Regions from separate parts of the Homo sapiens genome. Here region 1 is linked to region 2. Evidence: fine-mapped expression QTL. A gene starts in region 2. The other region holds a variant in brackets. All regions are shown on one strand. Distances are between the middles of the regions.

Region 1 (10,100 bases), 110 kb before region 2:
TCAGTGTAGCCTGCCCATATCCCACACACCCCAAGGCCCTTGAATGGGTTATTGAAGCACTGTTCCCTAAGTCAGGGGACAACAGCTTTCCTAGAAGGCCTGAGCCAGCCACAGAGAAACGTTCCCACCATGCTCCTGGCAGCAGCTCTGTGCACTTTGATGCGGCCCCTCCTTTGTGGCCTAACAGGAAGAGTGAAATCAGGGAGACTCAGGTCTCAATCCCACCTCTGCTAAGCTGTGTGACCTTCTCTCTCTGAGACTCTGATTCTTTGTCTGCAAAATGGAGACAATGAGACCACCCTCATAAGTTTATTATGGAGAAAAGGGCCTGGCACAGGGAAGTTAGGCATGCAATAAATGCTAATGGTAAAAGGAGAAAGAAAGAACAGAGCCCAAAGATAATATAAGGAAATCAACAACCACCACCCAGCTACTCTTCTGGAATGCTAGCCACACACCAGGCACTGTGCTTAGCACTGTTTGCACCCTAACTCACATAGTCTTCACAGCCCCTCTTAGAGGCAGATACTGACCCCATTTACAGCAGTCACATGGCCACCAGGAGGCCTGTGCAACCACCACACTCCCCTGCCACCCCCCTGGGCTCATCTGCTGAGCCAAGGTATGGCTTTCTCCTGTGGGCCAACTCCCCATTGGGACCACATGCTCACGCTCATCTTCATGCACTGCCTGTGGACATGGGGAGTGGAATAGAAAAGAGCATTCACAGCCAGGCGCGGTGGCTCACGCCTGTAATCCCAGCACTTTGGGAGATCGAGGCAGGCGGATCACCCGAGGTCAGGAGTTCAAGACCAGCCTGACCAATATGGAGAAACCCTGTCTCTACTAAAAATACAAAATTAGCCAGGCATGGTAGCGCATGCCTGTAATCCCAGCTACTTGGGAGGCTGAGGCAGGAGAATCACTTGAACCCAGGAGGCGGAGGTTGCAGTGAGCCAAGATTGCGCCATTGCACTCCAGCCTAGGCAACAAGAGCAAAACTCCGTCTCAGGGAAAAAAAAAAAAAAAAAAAAAGCATTTACCTCCACTGGGCGTGGCCCACTTCCTTCCTTCCATCCCAGAGGGCAGAACATGTTGCTGCACTCCCCAAAACCCTGAAGTGACTCCACAGTGCCTCAAGGTCACACCCAAGACCATTACTTTATCTCCCCACACACCCCAAGGAATCCTGCCCCAGCCCTGCCAAACTTCACCCATTCCCTTCCCCTTCTTGCAAAGCCACTCCCTGGAAAACTCCTACTCATCCTGCTGGGGACACCAACCTGTGGCAGGCCTCAGTGCCTCTTCCTCACTCTCCCTGGGGTTCTCCTCACACCCTCTCGCTGCCTGAGATACAGCAAGGATTTAGATGTGTGTCTGACTCTGATGCTAAGCTCTGGGGACTAGGTCTGGTCCCCCTGCGAGCCCCCATACCTAGCATATAGCAGACACTATTAAAATGATCAATGTTGAGCCTGGCCACGTGGCTCACACCTGTAATGCCAGCACTTTGAGAGGCCAAAGTGGGAGGACTGCTTGAGCCCAGGAGTTCCAGATTACAGTGAACTATGATTGTGCCACTGCACGCCAGTCTAGGCAACAGAGCAAGACCCCATCTCTAAAAACATAAAAATGAAATTATGAATGTTGTTGAAAAAGTACAACTCCACCCATTCCTGTGGGACCCTGTGCAACCAAGAAGCAGAAAGTGAGGGACAGGTCCTACCCACTGGCCAGTATTCCCTGGGACAAGGGGGATGGGAGGGGGGACACACAAAGCCCACCTCTTTTTTCCTGCTCTAGGAGGCTGATGCAGTTGGTTGCTGCTGTCCCCTTTTTGCCTGATCCCTTGAGATCTGGGAAGTGGGAAGGAGAGAGAAGGGCAGGAAGAGGGAAGAGACAACAGACAGGCCCCACAGAGCCAAAAGGATTAAGTCCCACTGATTTTGCATCATTGTTCTCTGTGGCCGCTTAGCTTTGTGGGGCTCAGATGGTACAAAGGAAAAGCAGGTAATGGCAGAAGGGGTTCAGCATGTCCCTGCAGGCCGCTGTGTGCACAGGGCTGGCCTAAATGACCTGAAAGAATCTTTCTTGCTCAAAGTTTATAATTCTCCAGACAATGGGCCCTATTAAAGACAAGGGGGCCAGACTCTGAGGCCTCACCTGGACACACAGGCACTTCCTGGGCAGCCTTGACCAAGCCCACGTTCCCCGGCACAGCAGCCCTGAGCTCTTGACCTCACCTCATTGACGTCGATCTTGTTCCTCTCCATGTAGTCTCTGTCATTGACCTGCCCGCCATCCACAAACTCCATCAGGAGGACCCGCTCCGTGGACAGGTCCCAGTGGATTCGGGGGACCTGGGATAGGAAGGGACAGGTCAGATGGTCTGGGGAAGCTGGGAATCGGGCAAGGATGACAATGTGGCACAGCGAGCCAGACAGCAACAGAGGCTCCTCCCAGAGCAAGGGAGAAGAGGCCCAGGAGGGACCTCAGCGGTGACAGTGGGGATGGGACAGCCAGGCCAAGAGGGAGGCTGGCTACTCCACCTCTGCTCAGCAGGCCTCCGCCCACTCCTTTAGATACCGGCTTTGCCAACTCTCCTCAGTGCCTTCTAATGCTGTTAAGAGCCAAAACTAAAGTTGGGACTTGGGAGGAAAATGTTGGAACACCTCACACCTGGGCATTGCTGTTAAGGATATTTCCTCTCCCCATCCCGCCACCAGGCCTACTTCGGACTCCTCCCTCTGCCTCCAATATTTCACCCAGGTAATGGGTGCATTGTGTGTATTGAGCAAATGACTGAGTTTTAACCAGATGATAAATTTTGTTTCTCATGCCTGTTTCCTGTAGGAAAACACGTTTCCTGGGGCAGACAACATTGGATATTAACCCAACATCTATTCCCAACCCTCCTCTTCCCTAGAGATGAAAAAAACTAAATACTGGGGCCAGGCGGAGTGGCTCACACCTATAATCCCAGCACTTTGGGAGGCTGGGGCAGGTGGATTGCTTGAGCTCAGAAGTTCAAGACCAGCCTGGGCAACGTGGCGAAACCCTGTCTCTACAGTAAATACAAAAATTAGCCAGGCATAGTGGTGCGTGCCTGTGATCCCAGCTTGGGAGGCTAAGGTGGGAGGATCGCTGTCAAAGCCAGTGTGCTGTGACCTTATACATCACACCACTGCACTCCAGCCTGGGCAACAGAGCAAGATCCTGTCTGAAAACAAACAAACAAATAAAAAACCTAAATACTTTCCTTGCCTGCTTTATAGTAGGTATGGCCATGTGACATAGTTCTGACTTATGAACAAAAATGGAAACCTGCTAGGGGATTCTGGGAAGGTTTTTATTTCCTTGATTTAAAAAAAAGGGGGTATTTGCATAGTGCTACTCTTCTTCCACTTCTCTTCTTGCCTCGAAAGTGAATGTGAATGTGACTGTTGGTGCTGTAGCAGCCATCTTGCAACAATGAGGAAAAATAAAAAAATTTAAAAATCTGAGAAGCCAGCTCTGGTACTGTTAAACCACCAAAACCATATGTCAGTAGGCAACCACTGCAAACCTTCTTGCTATGTGAAGACAACAAATTCTTTTGTTTAAGGCACTCTAAATGAGGCTTTCAGTTGCCTACAGACAAATGCATTACTAACATACACTCTCCAACCCTCTCTGACTCTCATAACACTCAAAAACCAAAAAGAGAACAGATTTCTCCAGGAGCGGGCAAGAGACTAGAATGCAACCAGGCTGCCATGTGAGCAAGGGACACCCACCAGTACCCCCACAGCCAGGAGGGAGGGGTTACTGGGCTTCCAGCATGCCGAGTTTCCCCCAAATTGTGAGGAGTTTATTTCCTCTTACAAATAAAGAAACATGGGCAGCTTTTTCAAATGTTTTGGAGAGTAAGATTTTCCTTTACCCTGACCACCCAAATTCATCTAGCAATAACATAGTGGCCCTCAAGTCAACAGACCTATTTCCTGTTCCTAATTCTGCTAATACTGTTGTGTCTTAGACTAGCCACTTAACTTCTTTACATCCCAGTCTTCCTCACTGGAAAGCAGAATTGTTTCTGCCCTATCTCAGTAAGGACCTCTGAGGATAAATGGGGGCTGTACATACAAGTGAAATGCTCTAGTTGGAACAAAGTTTCCACCAGAAAGCAAGGTGTTATTTTGGTTTGCTGCTTGACTGCGGTTTCTGCCATTTGAAAATCTGGGCCAATAGAGAAATCTGTGAAACTGATACTTTGAACTTAAAATTTAGACTTGCTTGGCATTTTTCAAAAAGTTTCTTTTTAAAAAAGTGAGTGCATGTTTGCTATTGTTGCTTTGTCGGTTTCTTTAGAGACAGGGTCTCATTCTGTCACCCAGGCTGGAATGCTGTGGCATCATCATAGCGCACTGCAGCCTCGAACTCCTGGACTCAAGAGATCCTCCTGCCTCAGCCTCTCAAAGTGCTGGGATTACAGGCGTGAGCCACCGTGCCCTGCCTGTTGTTTTTGTTCATGGCTTCCAAATGAATGGGACATATTTTCGGGTTAAATTCTTCCCTTGGGTTTGTTTGTAAACCTACCTTTGACAGTGGGCCCCTAAGGCTCTGGAGACAAGAGGTCAAATCTCTAGCCAGCCCCACCAGAGGCAGCTTAAAAAACAGCGAGGGGCTGGGCGCAGTGGCTCACGCCTGTAATCCCAGCACTTTGAGAGGCCAAGGAGGGCAGATCACTGAGGCTGAGGAAAGAGAATCGCTAGAACCTGGGAGACGGAGGTTGCAGTGGGTGAAGAATACGCCACTGTACTCCAGCCACGGTGACAGAGGGAGTGAGATTCCATCTCAAAAAAAAAAAAAAAAAAAACCAGCTAGGAAAGAGTCACAGGTGGAAACAGAAATCCCACAGGCTGGAGCTTCTCTGTGCTTGTGCATCAGGGTCCTGGGTGTACTGCGGTTTCCCCCTTTTTGGTCTCCCTGCAAACATCACCATTCCAGTCTAACCACAGAATGTGCCCCTTGCTTCTGCTGCTTAAATCTGAAATGACTAAAATATCAAACCTGGGAAACAGTGGAATTTGTCATGGGAGCTTCAGAACCACAGGTGCCCCTGGACAGACATAAC[A/G]TGGAAATGACTGCAAAATGCCAAACTGCTCCTGCTCAGTTAAAAAAGTGAGCTGCGCCTAAATCACCAGATGGGCAGGAGGACCTGGGGGTGTGGGGTGAAGTGAGCGCCCACATTTCCTGTCCTATGCTTCTTCCATCAAAGAAGGAAAAAATGAAAAAGAGAAATTTGAAAGAGTCAATAAGCACCCCGCACTCCCCCATCCCACCCCCAAACAAAGCAAGCTGAAACTCTAAGGAGCTCATGGCCAGGGTGCTCAGCGGCCCCACCAGCAGGGTCACACCCTGACCATTAGGACCCCTGGGTCCAGGTTCTACCTCTTTGCCACAGAGCAGAGGCCTCCCTCCTGTGGGCTCCTCCTGCCTCCCACACGGATGCCAATCTGGACCCCAAGAAGGAGGGCACCAATTAGAGAAGTTTTAGCCCAAGACCCTGGGCCTCAGCCTCACAGTCTGGCCCTGACCTCACATTTCTGCTTTGTTTCTATGCTTTGGTCAACATGCCCACGAAACAGGCTGCGCCTGGCTTGTCTGAGACAGTGCCCATCACCCTAGGCCCACAGTCCTCCTGGAGCCTGAGTCCAGCACAGCAGAAGGCCTGGAGACATGCAGTCAGACCGGCAGATTTGGAGTCAGGCTGCTGGCTGGAGCCCCGGCTCTGCCACCTAAAAGCTGTGTGACTGTGGGTAAGTTATATAACCTCTCTGAACACCAGTTTCTCCACCAAAAATATGGTGATAATGGTTACAGTGGAAGCACAACCCCACCTCCGCCCCCATTTCCCACTACTATGAGCAGAGTACTGGCACTCAACATGGAACCAGACACTAGCAGCTGCTGGAAAAAACATCGATTGCTCTTAGGACAGCCACATCGAGTTTCACAGAGGGCTCTGATACACACCAGGGCTGAGAGTTATGCTCTAGACGGTTCACTGGAATTCACAACTTCCCCACAGAGCAAAACCATATGGAGGGTGAACATGCAGGCTCTGGAGCAGGCTACCTCTATTCCCTCCCCTTAGTGGTAAGCCTTGTGACCCTGCCCAAAGGGTTGATAGCTCTGAGCCTCAGTCTCCCAACTGATGATATGGGGGTGATTATGGCACCTCCCTTGTGAGGCTGTTGTAAGAATTAAAGAATTAAAGAATATAAATCACTCTGCAAAAAAGAAGTTATATATTAATTACTATCCATCTGTAGTTCCTAATCTTTGAGATTCATGGGAAGTTATCATACTTCCCAAAAAGCATGCACATCTCCTCAGGGTTTGTCCACAATTTCTAGAGTCCTGGGCTCCTTACCTCACACTAAGGAACCCTGGCATGGCCCTGCACACCTATCCCCACCTCCACACATACAGAAATGGTCTCATCACTTCCAGTCCCAAACCCTGTGGTTATAAAGCTTCTCCCCTGCCACCTTGTCCCCAGGTGAGTCACAAACCCTACCACTTGTCCTGTTTCCATCCCCTGGCACATACGCTCTGCTGCCAGATCCACTAAGCCTGGCCTTAATCATTCAGCCTAGCTGCCCCCTCACCCTCTCCCAGTCCCCCTGACGCCATATTTGCATTCAGTGCTTGTCTGAGCCTGGGAGATTTATAGCACAGGGCTGAGGTTCTTAAACCGCACATAAGCACCGGAAGATGCCTCACACACTGAGAGGTAAAGTCTTTGCGGAGGCTTAATTATGCACAGATGTTGTGATCGGGAGCCAGTGTGCAAAAGCAGTCTATCTCCAGTTTTAAGAGCTGAACTGGGTTCACAGTGCAAAATTCACTTCCCCCTTGTTATGTGTTTAGGCAAAATTAATTACTCAAGAGCCTTAATTCCACCACTGTCTTAGGAAGGGTGTGCAAGTTTTGGAAACAGCAGGTCAAATTGGTATATTCATTATTTACCCATTTGGCATCTTCATTTGAAAAATGTGTGTTATTGTTATTATTGCATGTCTTGGTCTGGCACTTGCCAGTTGGCCCCAGCCAGGGGACAATTTTGCTGTTTCCATGGGAACAGTAGAGGAGATGGTTCTGTCTGGCTCATAGTTCTGGCTCTGAGGGGCACCCCTGCCGGTAAATGGCAGCAGAGTATCCTGAGAGGAGCACCACACTTGAAGTCAGAAAATCTGGGATGTTGCCCTAGCTCCTCTACTCAAACTGTCCTCTGCAATATGGGCTGATGCCTGCTGGAAGGACTCAACACCATAGTACCTGCAGACTGTTCAATGCAGCAGCTCCTGATGAAGAAGAAATAATCAATATATATTGCCTATAGTCAATACTTCTTAGAAGCACTCACCAGAGCCCTTTATCCTGGGTAGAATTACGTACTTCCTCTTGGGAATCCACAGAAACACAGATGAATGCCTGTCATGGTGCTAACAAACCTGCACTGCAACAACACATTGCTGTGTCTGTCCCTCCACTAGATGAGAAGTTTTCCAGAGCAGGGACAAACCTCAGCTCCCAGCACAGCAACAAGCTTGGGAATAAAAGAAATGGAATAAGCAAGTAGAAGCATGTATTAGACTCTATAGCATTATGCTAATTAGTTAACATTATCACTTGTCTCAAAGAGCCAAGTTTTCACTGAACTGGTGGTTTGAGCTCCAAGGCTGGGGCAGTGACACCAGATCTAGGCTGCACTCCTGGATTTACACACACAAGAGGGTCTGTACATCCACACCGACAATGGCAGCCAACAAAATGCCAGTCAAGCATACTGGGAGTATGGAGACGTACCCAACCCTCACCACACACAAAGAGCTAAACTTCATGGGTTCTATCTTCCACCACAGTCAATGTGTCAATACACTGCACTGATCAACACAGCTGCGGTTCTTCCTCCTGCGGATTCTCAAGTGGTTAGAATAGACACATCTTCAGTCATTCCATCCCTGTTAGTCAATCAGGAGAGCAAAAATATAGACACTTCCTCCATTTCTCATGATGTCTTCAAAAGCCAAAAGGACACCTTAGGGAAGAATGAGAGAGTCCCTTTTCCCTGATCCAATGTTCTGAGCCATCCTCCCCAAGAACAGCACAGCTTGACTGTTGGCTCTAGAACCTGCACATGGAGCTCCTGAGGGCTTGGTGACCCCTCTCGTGCATTCTCCAGGCCTGGTAAAGAAGAGGGAAGGGTGATCCATCCTAGAGTTGGAAGCTAAGCTCAGTGTAGACAACCAGAAGAGCCCTCCAAGCCCTGCACTGTTGGGATAAAGGGGGTAACCCTGTTTTAATAGGCATACACCTCAGGAAGGACAAATGTGTTGGAAGAACAGTGGTGTAGCATACATCTCTCTCCCCAGTTCCTGTGTGCTCTGAGAGAACACCAGGATGGTCCTTAAAGACCAGCTCCGGCCGGCCGCGGTGGCTCACGCCTATAATCCCAGCACTTTGGGAGGCCGAGGCAGGCGGATCATTTGAGGTCAGGAGTTTGAGACCAGCCTGGCCAAAATGGCAAAACCGTGTCTCTACTAAAAATACAAAAATTAGCCAGGTGTGGTGGCACACACCTGTAGTCCTAGCTACTCAGGAGGCTGAGGCAGGAGAATCGCCTGAACCCGGGAGGTGGAGGTTGCAGTGAGCAGAGATTGCACCACTACGCACCAGCCTGGGTGACAGAGTGAGACTCTGACTCAGAAAAATCATAATAATAAAATAATTAATTAAAAAAAAAAAAAAAGGACCAGCTCCAGGGCCAGGAGCAGTGGCTCACACCTGTAATCTCAGCACTTTGGGAGGCCAAAGTGGGCAAATCATTTGAGGTCGGGAGTTCAAGACTAGCCTGACAACATGGTGAAACCCCATCTCTACTAAAAAAAAAAATACAAATATTAGTAAGGCATGGTGGCACATGCCTATGATCCCAGCTACTTGGGAGACTGAGACAGGAGAATTACTTGAACCCAGGAGGCGGAGACTGCAGTGAGCTGAGATCGCGCCACTGCACTCCAGTCTGGGCAACAGAGCGAGACTCTGTCTCAAAAAAAAAAAAAAAAAGAACACCAACTCTAGTGCCAACTTCTCAGCAGAGCCTGCCCTGACCCAGTAGGCCATGGGAGTCCCTACTTCTGAATCCTCAGAGCATGTAGAAGCCGTACTTCTCATGGGGCACTGACAGCTGCGACTTCATATTATCTGATATTGTTTCCCACATTAAGTGTCTCTTATTACATAGAACAGTTCTGCTATAATACTTGTTTTGAAAACACAAATTTGTTCCAATGCAATTGATATGTTAGGGAATAGTTTGATCATAATGCAAATTTTGGATGTGCTTATGTGTACTATCATCTGCGAGAAACACTGTGAATGCAGAAAGCTGCATCCAGCAGAGCCGTGCCACATTGGAATACACAAAACAAACACACCTCGACATCGCTGCGAGTCGGTGAGTCACCCACATCTGGCCTTACAACTTTCTGTCCCATTTCTTTTTTGTTGTTGTTGTTGTTCCTTGAGACGCAGTCTCGCTCTGTTGCCCAGGCTGCAATGCAATGGCATGATCTCAGCTCACTACAACGTCTGCCTCCTGGGTCCAAGCGATTCTCCTGTCTCAGCCTCCCGAGTAGCTGAGATTACAGGAGTGCACCACCATGCCCAGCTACTTTTTGTATTTTTAGTAGAGACAGGGTTTCACCATGTTGGCCAGGCTGGTCTTGAACTCCTTCCCTCAAGTGATCTGCCCACCTCCGCCTCCCAAAGAACTGCGATTACTGCCATCAGCCACCATGCCCAGCCTCCGTCCCATTTCAAAGGACTCCTCCCACCACCCCACAAAACTAACAAGCAGCAACCCTTCTGATGCCCACTTCCACAGCAGGCTCAAGGTAAAGTGCCATGTGTATTGTGGTCTTATGTATTTCTTAGCCATTTAACATGTGTAAAACTATGCTACTGGTTTTTATTCATTCCTATCTTCTTTTCTTTCCTATATTACTGTATTACTGATGAATTTTCTTTTTTTTTTTTTTTGAGACGGA
Region 2 (10,100 bases):
TGGACAAACTACAGCCAGTGAGGCCTGAGACCTGTGCAGAGCAAGGAACAATGCAGGTCCCCAGGTGAAAACCACATGCCCTGGGCTGACAATTCATCACCAACACCCCATCCCACCCCAACACCACCTCCCAGCCCCTGCCTCCCCTGAACCCCCTCTTCCTGTTACACCAACCTCCACACCTGTCCCCTGTATGCAATGAGGCCACCCCTACCCTTGAGACCACCTCTGGGTGGGAAGTAACAGCGAAGCAGACACAACTCTCGAAACCCTGTTTTCGTGCAAATGTCCTCAGTGATAAAAGAGATGGAAATTGAAATACATAAAATAGATGATACAGGAGCCGAATGGCATCTAAATAGACTGGAGCTAGAGTTTTCCATAAGGTGTCCCTGAGTCTTTAACATGCAAATGAGTTGCTTCCCTCGGGGTATTGTAAAAGACCCTGTCAGGCGTGAAATATGTCTGTCAATTGAAAACATTTTTCCTTATTAAACCCTTTGTTAATGAATCACCTGCCCTGTTCTGCTTACTAGCCTTTTTGACTTTCACCTGAGTCACCTCTCCTAACAGTACATACCTTACAGGGGGTCTGAGGCCACCAAAACCCTTAAACCTAATCACTAGATAATAACACTAGCAAGAACTAGCCTTTATATTAAAATAGAGCCCTTTACACTCAACTCATTAGATATTCCACACAACCCAGTGAGGAGAGACAAATATTATTACCATCCCCAGGTATAAATGAGGAAACCAAGGAGCAGAGAGGGTGAGAGATTTGTCCCAGGTGGCTCAGCTAGTAAAATGGCTAAGAGCTTGAGCAGGGCCTTCCCACTCATTCCAAGTATTCAGCCCTTCTCTTTATGACAGGTAACGTCTTTGATAGGAACACCTGGACTCCTGTTCACTAAAGTCCTTACTGCTGTTCTCAAGTAAATGCAACTGTTGCTGTGGGCAGAGACTATGATTTCTGACCCAGTGCCAGGCATGTGGGAGGCACTGTTTGGAGCCCCCAAAATCAACAGGATGTCACAAGATCAACCAATGCCTCCCACTAGAAACAAGCCATTTCAGTCTATCAAATGTTTAGGAGAGCTGCAAAGCTGACATGGCTGTTTTATTGTCAAATCAATGACAAGAATGGAATCCATCTCGCTGGACCACAGGAAACACCCCAGTAGGTTATGAAAATGAAGCAACAGGAGAGTCTGGGACGTACAAATGGGAAGCTGATGGTCACACGAAATGTCCGTCCCCTTGACAGAACTAAATGGGAAACCAAGCACTTACTGTTCATCGGAGTCAGTGACTAGCTAGGCCTTTTCAGTTTCCATCCATTGGCAGCCCTCTCCCTATGCTACATTTCAGGACTAAAGGCCTGGAATCACCTTTCCCTGTTTGGTGCACAAATGAGAATTACCACAGAGAAAAGGCACTTAGGTCTCTAGTTCCATGAAAAGTGACCATGGCCTCCTCCCATTTCCTAGAGAGACTATTATACCAATGAGCATTATTTCTTCTAGTCTGCCCCCAAAACTGAAAAAAGACCCAAAAATACCCTTGGAGAGAGTGATAGGGTCTTCAGAAGAACCTGGTCCCTGATATGGATAGAAAGCACACAAAGTGAATGATACCATCATGCCTCAAGTCTGGAAAGATGCCAAAGACACCAAGTCAATAGCAAGGGACTGTGTGAAGTTGGCCTGAGCAGGTTTACAGTCTGCCCTCCCTAAGATAGTAATGTAGTCCAGGAACCAAATTGTATTTATTTATTTATTTTGAGATGAAGTCTCATTCTGTCGCCCAGGCTGGAGTGCAGTGGCGCAATCTCGGCTCACTGCAAGCTCCGCCTCCCGGGTTCCAGCCATTCTCCTGCCTCAGCCTCCTGAGTAGCTGGGACTACAGGCACCCGGCACCACGCCCAGCTAATTTTTTTGTATTTTTTTTAGTAGAGACGGTGTTTCACCATGTTAGCCAGGATGGTCTCGATCTCCTGACCTCGTGATCCGCCCGCCTTGGCTTCCCAAAGTGCTGGGATTACAGGCGTGAGCCACCGCGCCCGGCTAGGAACCAAATTTTAATCAAACTCCCTTTCCTAGTGTTTGATGCCTAAGCACTCAAGGTCCTTAAATCAATGTTGATTAAATAAAGGAATCCCGGGAGGCTGAAGCAAGAGAATTGCTGGAACCCGAGAGGCAGAGGCTGCAGTGAGCCAAGATCGTGCCACTGCACTCCAGCCTGGGCGACAGAGCAACACTCTGTCTCAAAAAATAAAAAAAGGAATCCCTGACTGATGCCAAGGTCCCAGAATAGACAACAAAAATAATTCTCACCCAGGCAAGGAATAGAAATCCTCCATTCAGTCCATCCTAGGAAAGGCAGACTGAGGGAGAATAGGGCAAAGCCAGATGCAAAGAGCAAGCAGCAGGTAAGAGAAGAGAGTGAGCTTCCAACGGGAGAGCTACAGTACCAAGCACTTATTAGCTCATTAACTCACACAACCAGATTCCGAGGTGCATGCTATTAGAGCTTCAATCTATGGATAAGGAAGTGGTGTTTTAGAAAAGGTAGAAAACTTGGCCAAGGAGCTGGTAAGTGATGGAGGCAGAACTTGAATCCATGTATGACTGCTCCCACCAAGAGAGCAAAAAGTGCACAAGAACAAGCAGCTTGCTGGGCCCTGAAATAGGCCACTGGAGTCCCTGCAACATGGAAACCTTAACCCAGGAGGCATATTTAGTGAGTTACCCTGGTGAAGAAATGGATGGCTGACCCAACTAAATTTTTTTTTTTTAGACGGAGTCTTGCTCAGTCGCCCAGGCTGGAGTGCAGTGACACGATCTCGGCTCACTGCAGCCTCCGTCTCCCGGGTTCAAGCTGTTCTCCTCCTCAGCCTCCCAAGTAGCTGGGACTACAGGCACACACCACTACGCCCAGGTAATTTTTTTGTATTTTTGGTAGAGATGGGGTTTCACCATGTTGGCCAGGCTGGCATTGAACGCCTGACCTCAAGTGATTCGCCCACCTCAGCCTCCCAAAGTGCTGGGATTACAGGTGTGAGCCACCGCACCCGGCCCCAACTAATATTCTTACAGGTCCTTTGTCTGACAAGAAAATGACTGCATAGCAGAAAGTAAGAATATGCACACTCTTCTAGTACAGATCAAATCGCACATCCCTGAGGCCAGTTGAGAAATGGCCAAGCAAAGAATGACCCAATAAGGTAGAATATGATGTAACCAGGAAAAATGACAAGTATAGACTACATTAAAATCTGTATATAAATTAATATGGAGGGAGTTAACAGTGTACAAAGTAATATGCACATATTTACAATCACCAAAAAAGTAAAACTGGCAAATAAAGACAGAAAGACCCGTAACCAGGTGTGAAGAGATAGTGCTTTAAGTTCACAGGATTTTTTTTCCTATAAAGCAGTGGTACTCAACGTATGGTCCCCAGACCAACAGCAACTGCATCACTTGGGTGCATGTTAGAAACGCCAATTCTTGGTCCTCATACCAGACTTACAGAATCAGAAACTTTGGGGATGGGGTCCAGTACTGTGTGTTGTTACTAGCTCTCCAGGTGACTCTGGTGCATGCTAAAGTTTGAGAACCACTGTAGTAAGAAAATTATTTTATTTATTTTCCTTTTTTTCTTTTAATACAGACGGGAGTCTCACTATGTTGCCCAGCCTGGTGTTGAACTCCTGCCCTCAAGCAATCCTCCCATCTTGGCCTCCCAAAGTGCTGGGATTACAGGCATCAGCCACCACATCCAGCCCCAAGAAAATTATTAAATAAAACATATGAAGCCACAGATAAAGTCTAATTCACTTCAACTCTGCAAATATTTCTTGAGCACCTACTAAGTGCCAAGTATCATGGAGGTAAACAATAAATACTTGTTGAATGACTTTCTTGTTAGTAGAAAGTAAATGCCACTTAACCCTGGGAGAGGGCTGTTCTAGGTGTCTTATCTAAAGGTTGCTCTCCACACACACTGGCTGCTGTTAGCACATATCTACTGTGTGATCTGGAAGCCCAGGGCCCTGCAAGATGCTGGAGATAAGCAGCGGTCTGGGGCACGTTCGCAAGACCGGGTGGAGGGCCAGGATATGGGCATCGCCCCCTGCTCTTGCCCAGACCACGCTCCAGCTCCAGCTGCTTCTGCCTCGGAACTCACAGGGCCACCAGGGGGTGAAGGCGTCTGGGTGAGCCACCTCCGGCCCTCCTCCAGCTCTGCCCACTCGGGTGCCTGCAAGACTGTGCCACTGAAGTGGACAGGTCACATGAAAGCCCACTGGTGTGCCAAACTGGAGAAGTCACTGCAGGGGGGCGGGGCAATGCGAGTCACCCGAGCCACGTGGCCGCGCGCCGGGCCCAGGTGACAAGGTCATGGGGCTGTCCCTCCCGGCGCCCAGGGCGGCTGCACAACCGGAGCAGAGGCCGACTCCCGGCGTGTCCATGCCGGTTCCCTCGCGCTCCAGGCGCGGTGCGGCCCTGCCAGGCTGGTCGGCCCGAGCTCTGCGCCGGCCTCCGGCGAGCTGCCCCTACTCACCCCGAGGGAAGCAGAGCCGCGGCGCCCGGCTTCCGGCCGCAACCCGGTAGCGGGGAATTAGCTGGGAACCGTGCGGGGACAGCCACCTGACTGCGCTTAGTGAAGCCGAGGCGCGCGCGGCCTGCCGGGACTTGTAGTTCCTGGTTCCCCACGCCGCGATCCCGCGGGCAGTACTGTGGAGGCACAGGGGTCTCGGGCTTACTCCGTCAGGTGGCCTTGTTGCTTTGCCAGGGCGACGGACTTGGAATATTACTGAAATATTTTCTTCAAGACATTCTAACTACGTCCCAGGTTCGTGTTTAATGAAAGATGAAGTGGATTTGTAGATTTTTTTTTTTTGAGACTGAGTCTCGCTCTGTCGCCCAAGCAGTACAGCTAATTTTTGTATTTTTTTTAGAGATGGGGTTTCACCATGTTGGCCAAGCCGGTCTCAAACTCCTGACCTCAAATGATCCGCCCGCCCAAAGTGCTGGGATTACAAGAGTGAGCCACTGCGCCCGACCTCGTAGATTTTATTCATTCATTCATTCATTCATTCATTCATTTTGAGACAGAGTCTCACTCTGTCGCCCAAGCTGGAGTGCAGTGGCCCATCTCGCCTCACTGCAACCTCCGCCTCCCGGGTTCAAGTGATTCTCCTGCCTCAGCCTCCTGAGTAGCTGGGATTACAGGAGTGTGCTACCACGCCCTGCTAATTTTTTGTATTTTTAGGAGTGACGGGGTTTCGCCATTTTGCCCAGGCTGGTCTTGAACTCCTGAACTCAGGCAATCCACCCGCCTTGACTTCCCAAAGTGCTGGGATTACAAGCCTGAGCCACCTCACCGGGCCATAGATTTTAAATAAGATATTGGAACTAGTAGGCGAAGAAGAAATTTACTGACAATTGATGTATGCTGGCGGGGCGGTGGCTCACGCCTGTAATCCCAGCAGGCCAAGGCTAGCAGATCACCTGAGGTCGGGAGTTTGAGACCAACCTGACCAACATGGAGAAACCCCGTCCCTACTAATAATAGCAAAAATTAGCCAGGCCTAGTGGTGCATGCCTGTAATCCCAGCTACTCAGGAGGCTGAGGCACTAGAAACCCGGGAGGCAGAAGTTGCGGTGAGCCGAGGTCACGCCATTGCACTCCAGCCTAGGCAACAACAGCGAAACTCCGTCTCAAAAATAATAATAATAATGCTGGCTGGGCAGGACGCAGTAGCTCACACCTGTAATCCCAGCACTTTGGGAGGCTGAGGCGGGCAGATCACCTGAGGCTAGGGGTTGGAGACCAGCCAGGCCGACATAGTGAAACCCCATTTCTACTAAAAATAGAAAAATTAAGCCGGGTGCGGTGGCTCATTCCTGTAATCCCAGCACCTTGGGAGGCCAAGGTGGGCGGACCACTTGAGGCCGGGAATTTGAGACCAGCCTGGCCAACATAGTGAAATCTGTCTCTGCTAAAAATACAAAAATTAGCCTGGTGTGGTGGTGCACGTCTGGAATTTCAGCTACTCAGGAAGCTGAGGCAGGAGAATCGCTTGAACCCGGGAGGCGGAGGTTGCAGTGAGCTGAGATCACGCCACTGCACTCCAGCCTAGGCAACAGAGTGAGACTCTGTCTCCAAAAAGAAAAAAAAGAAAAAGAAAAATTAGCCCAGCATAGTGGCGGGCACCTGTTATCCCAACTACTCGGGAGGCTGAGGTGGGAGAATTGCTTGAACCCAGGAGGTGGAGGTTGCAGTGAGCTGAGATTGGGCCACTGCACTCCAGCCTGGGCAACAGAGCAAGACTCGTCTCAAAATAAATAAATAAATAAATATAATATGCTAGCTAATCTTAGTTATCTTTGGCCCTTATTCATTCATTCACTGATCTCCATTATCAAATGTTGACTTATAAGATGCACTTTGAAGACATGTATCAAAAACATTTCTCTTTTTTTTTTTGAGACAGGGTCTGGCTGTGTTGCCCAAGCTGGAGTGTAGAGGCTCCATCACTGTAGCCTCAACTTCCTGTCCTCAAGGTACCCTCCTGCCTCAGTCTGTGGAGTAGCTGGGACTACAAGCACATACTGCCACGCCTGGCTAAATTTTTTAAATTTTTTCTCAAGAAAAGCTGGGGGGTGTGGTCTCACTATATTGCCCAGGCTGGTCTCGAATTTCTGTGCTAAGCCATCCTCTGGCCTTGGCCTCCCAAAGTGCTGGGATTACAGGTGTGAGCCACCACGCCAGGCCTCAGACGTTTGTTTATTCTATAAACATCTCTTGAGCTATTTTTTTCATGGGGGAATTAATCTATCAGTCCAATGCAGTTCCAATCAAATTTCCAACATAATTTTTTCTGGACCTTCACAAACTAATCAAAAGTGTGTATGAAAAAACAAAGGGCAGCGCAGTGGCTCGTGCCTGTAATCCCAGCACGTTGGGAGGCTAAGGCAGGTGGATCAGTTGAGGTCAGGAGTTCATCACCAGCCTGGCCAACATGGTAAAACCCCATCTCTACTAAAATACAAAAATTAGCCAGGCATGGTGGTGCACACCTGTAATCCCAGCTACTCAGAAGGCTGTGGCAAGAGAATCCTTGAACCCGGGAGACAAATGTTGCAGTGAGCCAAGATCATACCACTGAATTCCAGCCTGGGTGACAGAGCGAGACTTTGTCTCAAAAAAAAAAAAAAATACAAAAAACAAAAAAAAACCACCACTTTAAGGCAAAGCATAGCCAAAACATTCTTGAAGAAGAAAAATGTGTTTCAAGGACGCACCCTTCCATGTCAACATGTATTATAAAGCTATACAAATTAAGACCATGTGATATTGGAATAGGGAAAGGCAGAGGGGGAAATGGAACCACCTACAGAGCCCAAACATGCAGGCATCTATGAAATGAGGTATGGCTGGAATTATAGTTCAGTGAGGGAAGATAGAGTATTCAGTACATGGGCTGGAACAACCAGTTACCTGTTGGATCCCCTATGCAAAAACTAATTCAAGGTAGGTTAAAGACTTACAGGGGAAATTAAAGCATTTTAAAATTACAACTTTTTTTTTCTTCTTACTATCGTTCCCCAAAATTATAACTTTTACAAGAAAAGAAAACATCCTTATGATCTCAGGGTAGGGTTTATTAAGTGCCATAATCACAAACTGTAAATAAAACTTTGATAAATTTAAACTACATTAAATTTAAGCACTTGTCTTTATTGAAAGACAGCATAGACTGAGCACAGTGGCTTATCCCTGTAACCACGACAGTTTGGGAGGCCAAGGCAGGAGAATCGCTTGAAGCTGGGAGTTAGAGACCAGCCTGAGCAACATAGCCAGACCCTATGAGATTACAGAAAAATTAAAAATTAGCTGGGCATGGTGGCGCATGCCTGTAGTCCCAGCTACTCTGGAGGCCAGGGAGGGAGGATCTTGAGCCCAGGAGTTCAAGGCTGCAGTGAGCTTTGATGAGTCTTGCCACTGCACTCCAGCTGGGCAACAGAGAGAGAGCTAAACCCGGTCACTAAAAAAGAAAAAAAAAGATAATTGCAGCACAGAGGTAGCAGTAGTATAGAGTTAAATAACACAGCCCCCACCATCTAAAGTTTGCAATGTATAGGCATTAAGATAAGAAGATTGATAACTTCCAAATAATGTGAGAAGTGTTAAGATTGAGGTATGAACAAAGTGGCTTAGGAACAGAAAAAAGGGAGCATTAGGCCAGGTGCAGTGGCTCACACCTGTAATCCCAGCACTTAGGGAGGCCAAGGCAGGCAGATCACTTGAGGTCAGGAATTCCAGCCCAGCCTGGCCAACATGGTGAAACCCCGTCTCTACTAAAAATACAAAACTTAGCTGGGCGTGGTGTCACACGCCTGTAGTCCCAGCTGCTCTAGAGGCTAAGGCAGGATACTCGCTTGAACCTAGGAGGCAGAGGTTGCAGTGAGCCGAGATCATGTCACTGCACTCCAGCCTGGGTGACAGAGCAAGACTCCATCTCAAAAAATAATAATAAATTAAAAATAAAATAATAATAAGGGCCAGGCACAGTGGCTCATGCCTAAAATCCCAACTACTCAGGAGGCTCACGTGGGAAGATAACTTGAGCCCAGAAGGTCAAGGGTACAGTGAGGCATGATTGCACCACCACCGCATTCCAGCCTGGGTGACAGAGAAAAACCCAGTCTAAAAAAAAAAATCACCTGGAGAGCTTTAAAAGTCTTCCTGGGCCATAGCTGGCACTAGCACCCCTTCAACTACTGGGAATGGGACTGAGTCATAGGTATTTTGTAGAGCTCCCTGTAGGATTTCAATGCACAGCTGAGGTTAAAAACCCCGATTTAGAGTCAAAGAATCTTATTTGAACTGGGTGACTCACAGCAGGTTTTCTAATTTTGGCAGAGCTTTAGTTTCTGTCTTGATAAAATGGAGTTAATACTATTGTCAGTCCTATCTACCTCAAAGGGCTTGTGAGGATCAAGTGCAATGGTGCAAGTGCTTTGGAAGCTGAATGTTGCTGTTCAGAGGAGTGTCATGACACTGAGAAGAAAATCCAAACTCTTTGCCTGATGTGGGGAAAAGCAAGAGAGATCAGATTGTTACTGTGTCTGTGTAGAAAGAAATAGACATGGGAGACTCCATTTTGTTATGTACTAAGAAAAATTCTTCTGCCTTGAGATTCTGTGACCTTACCCCTAACCCCGTGCTCTCTGAAACATGTGCTGTGTCAAACTCAGGGTTAAATGGATTAAGGGCGGTGCAAGATGTGCTTTGTTAAACAGATGCTTGAAGGCAGCATGCTCCTTAAGAGTCATCACCACTCCCTAATCTCAAGTACCCAGGGACACAAAAACTGCGGAAGGCCGCAGGGACCTCTGCCTAGGAAAGCCAGGTATTGTCCAAGTTTTCTCCCCATGTGATAGTCTGAAATATGGCCTCGTGGGAAGGGAAAGACCTGACCGTCCCCCAGCCCAACTCCTGTAAAGGGTCTGTGCTGAGGAGGATTAGTATAAGAGGAAGGCATGCCTCTTGCAGTTGAGACAAGAGGAAGGCATCTGTCTCCTGCCCGTCCCTGGGCAATGGAATGTCTCGGTATAAAACCCGATTGTACGTTCCATCTACTGAGATAGGGGAAAAGCGCCTTAGGGCTGGAGGTGGGACATGCGGGCAGCAATACTGCTTTGTAAAGCATTGAGATGTTTATGTGTATGCATATCTAAAAGCACAGCACTTAATCCTTTACCTTGTCTATGATGCAAAGACCTTTGTTCACGTGTTTGTCTGCTGACCCTCTCCCCACTATTGTCTTGTGACCCTGACACATCCCCCTCTCGGAGAAACACCCACGAATGATCAATAAATACTAAGAAAACTCAGAGGCTGGCGGGATCCTCCATATGCTGAACGCTGGTCCCCAGGGTCCCCTTATTTCTTTCTCTATACTTTGTCTCTGTGTCTTTTTCTTTTCCAAGTCTCTCGTTCCACCTTACGAGAAACACCCACAGGTGTGGAGGGGCAACCCACCCCTTCAGCCTGACCCTCCTGGCTCCCCAGAGGCTGGCTCCACT

Which allele goes with the higher level. Alleles are on the strand shown, and positions count from the first base shown. SD is a standard deviation of normalised expression in the study named.
As copies of G replace A in region 1, the expression in regulatory T cells of the gene that starts at base 4,628 in region 2 goes down (large effect, 1.0 SD a copy in Schmiedel 2018).

What was found.
Region 1: its variant is fine-mapped to the expression of ADCK1 in regulatory T cells (Schmiedel 2018, PIP 0.95).

The regions. Positions count from the first base shown.
Region 1 is chr14:77,900,063-77,910,162 of GRCh38, reverse strand. ADCK1 (aarF domain containing kinase 1) reads right to left here. Exons shown (of 11, transcript NM_020421.4): 7 at 2,244-2,360. Among named protein-coding and RNA genes, the nearest start is that of ADCK1, 110 kb to the right of the region's middle. The variant A/G (reference allele first, on the strand shown) is at 5,117.
Region 2 is chr14:77,794,637-77,804,736 of GRCh38, reverse strand. It overlaps ADCK1 (aarF domain containing kinase 1), which reads right to left and starts at 4,628. Exons shown (of 11, transcript NM_020421.4): 1 at 4,567-4,628. RefSeq lists enhancers at 1,792-2,631, 4,013-4,092, 4,103-4,152, 4,226-4,764, 4,765-5,303 and silencers at 4,343-4,702, 8,408-8,457, 8,468-8,517.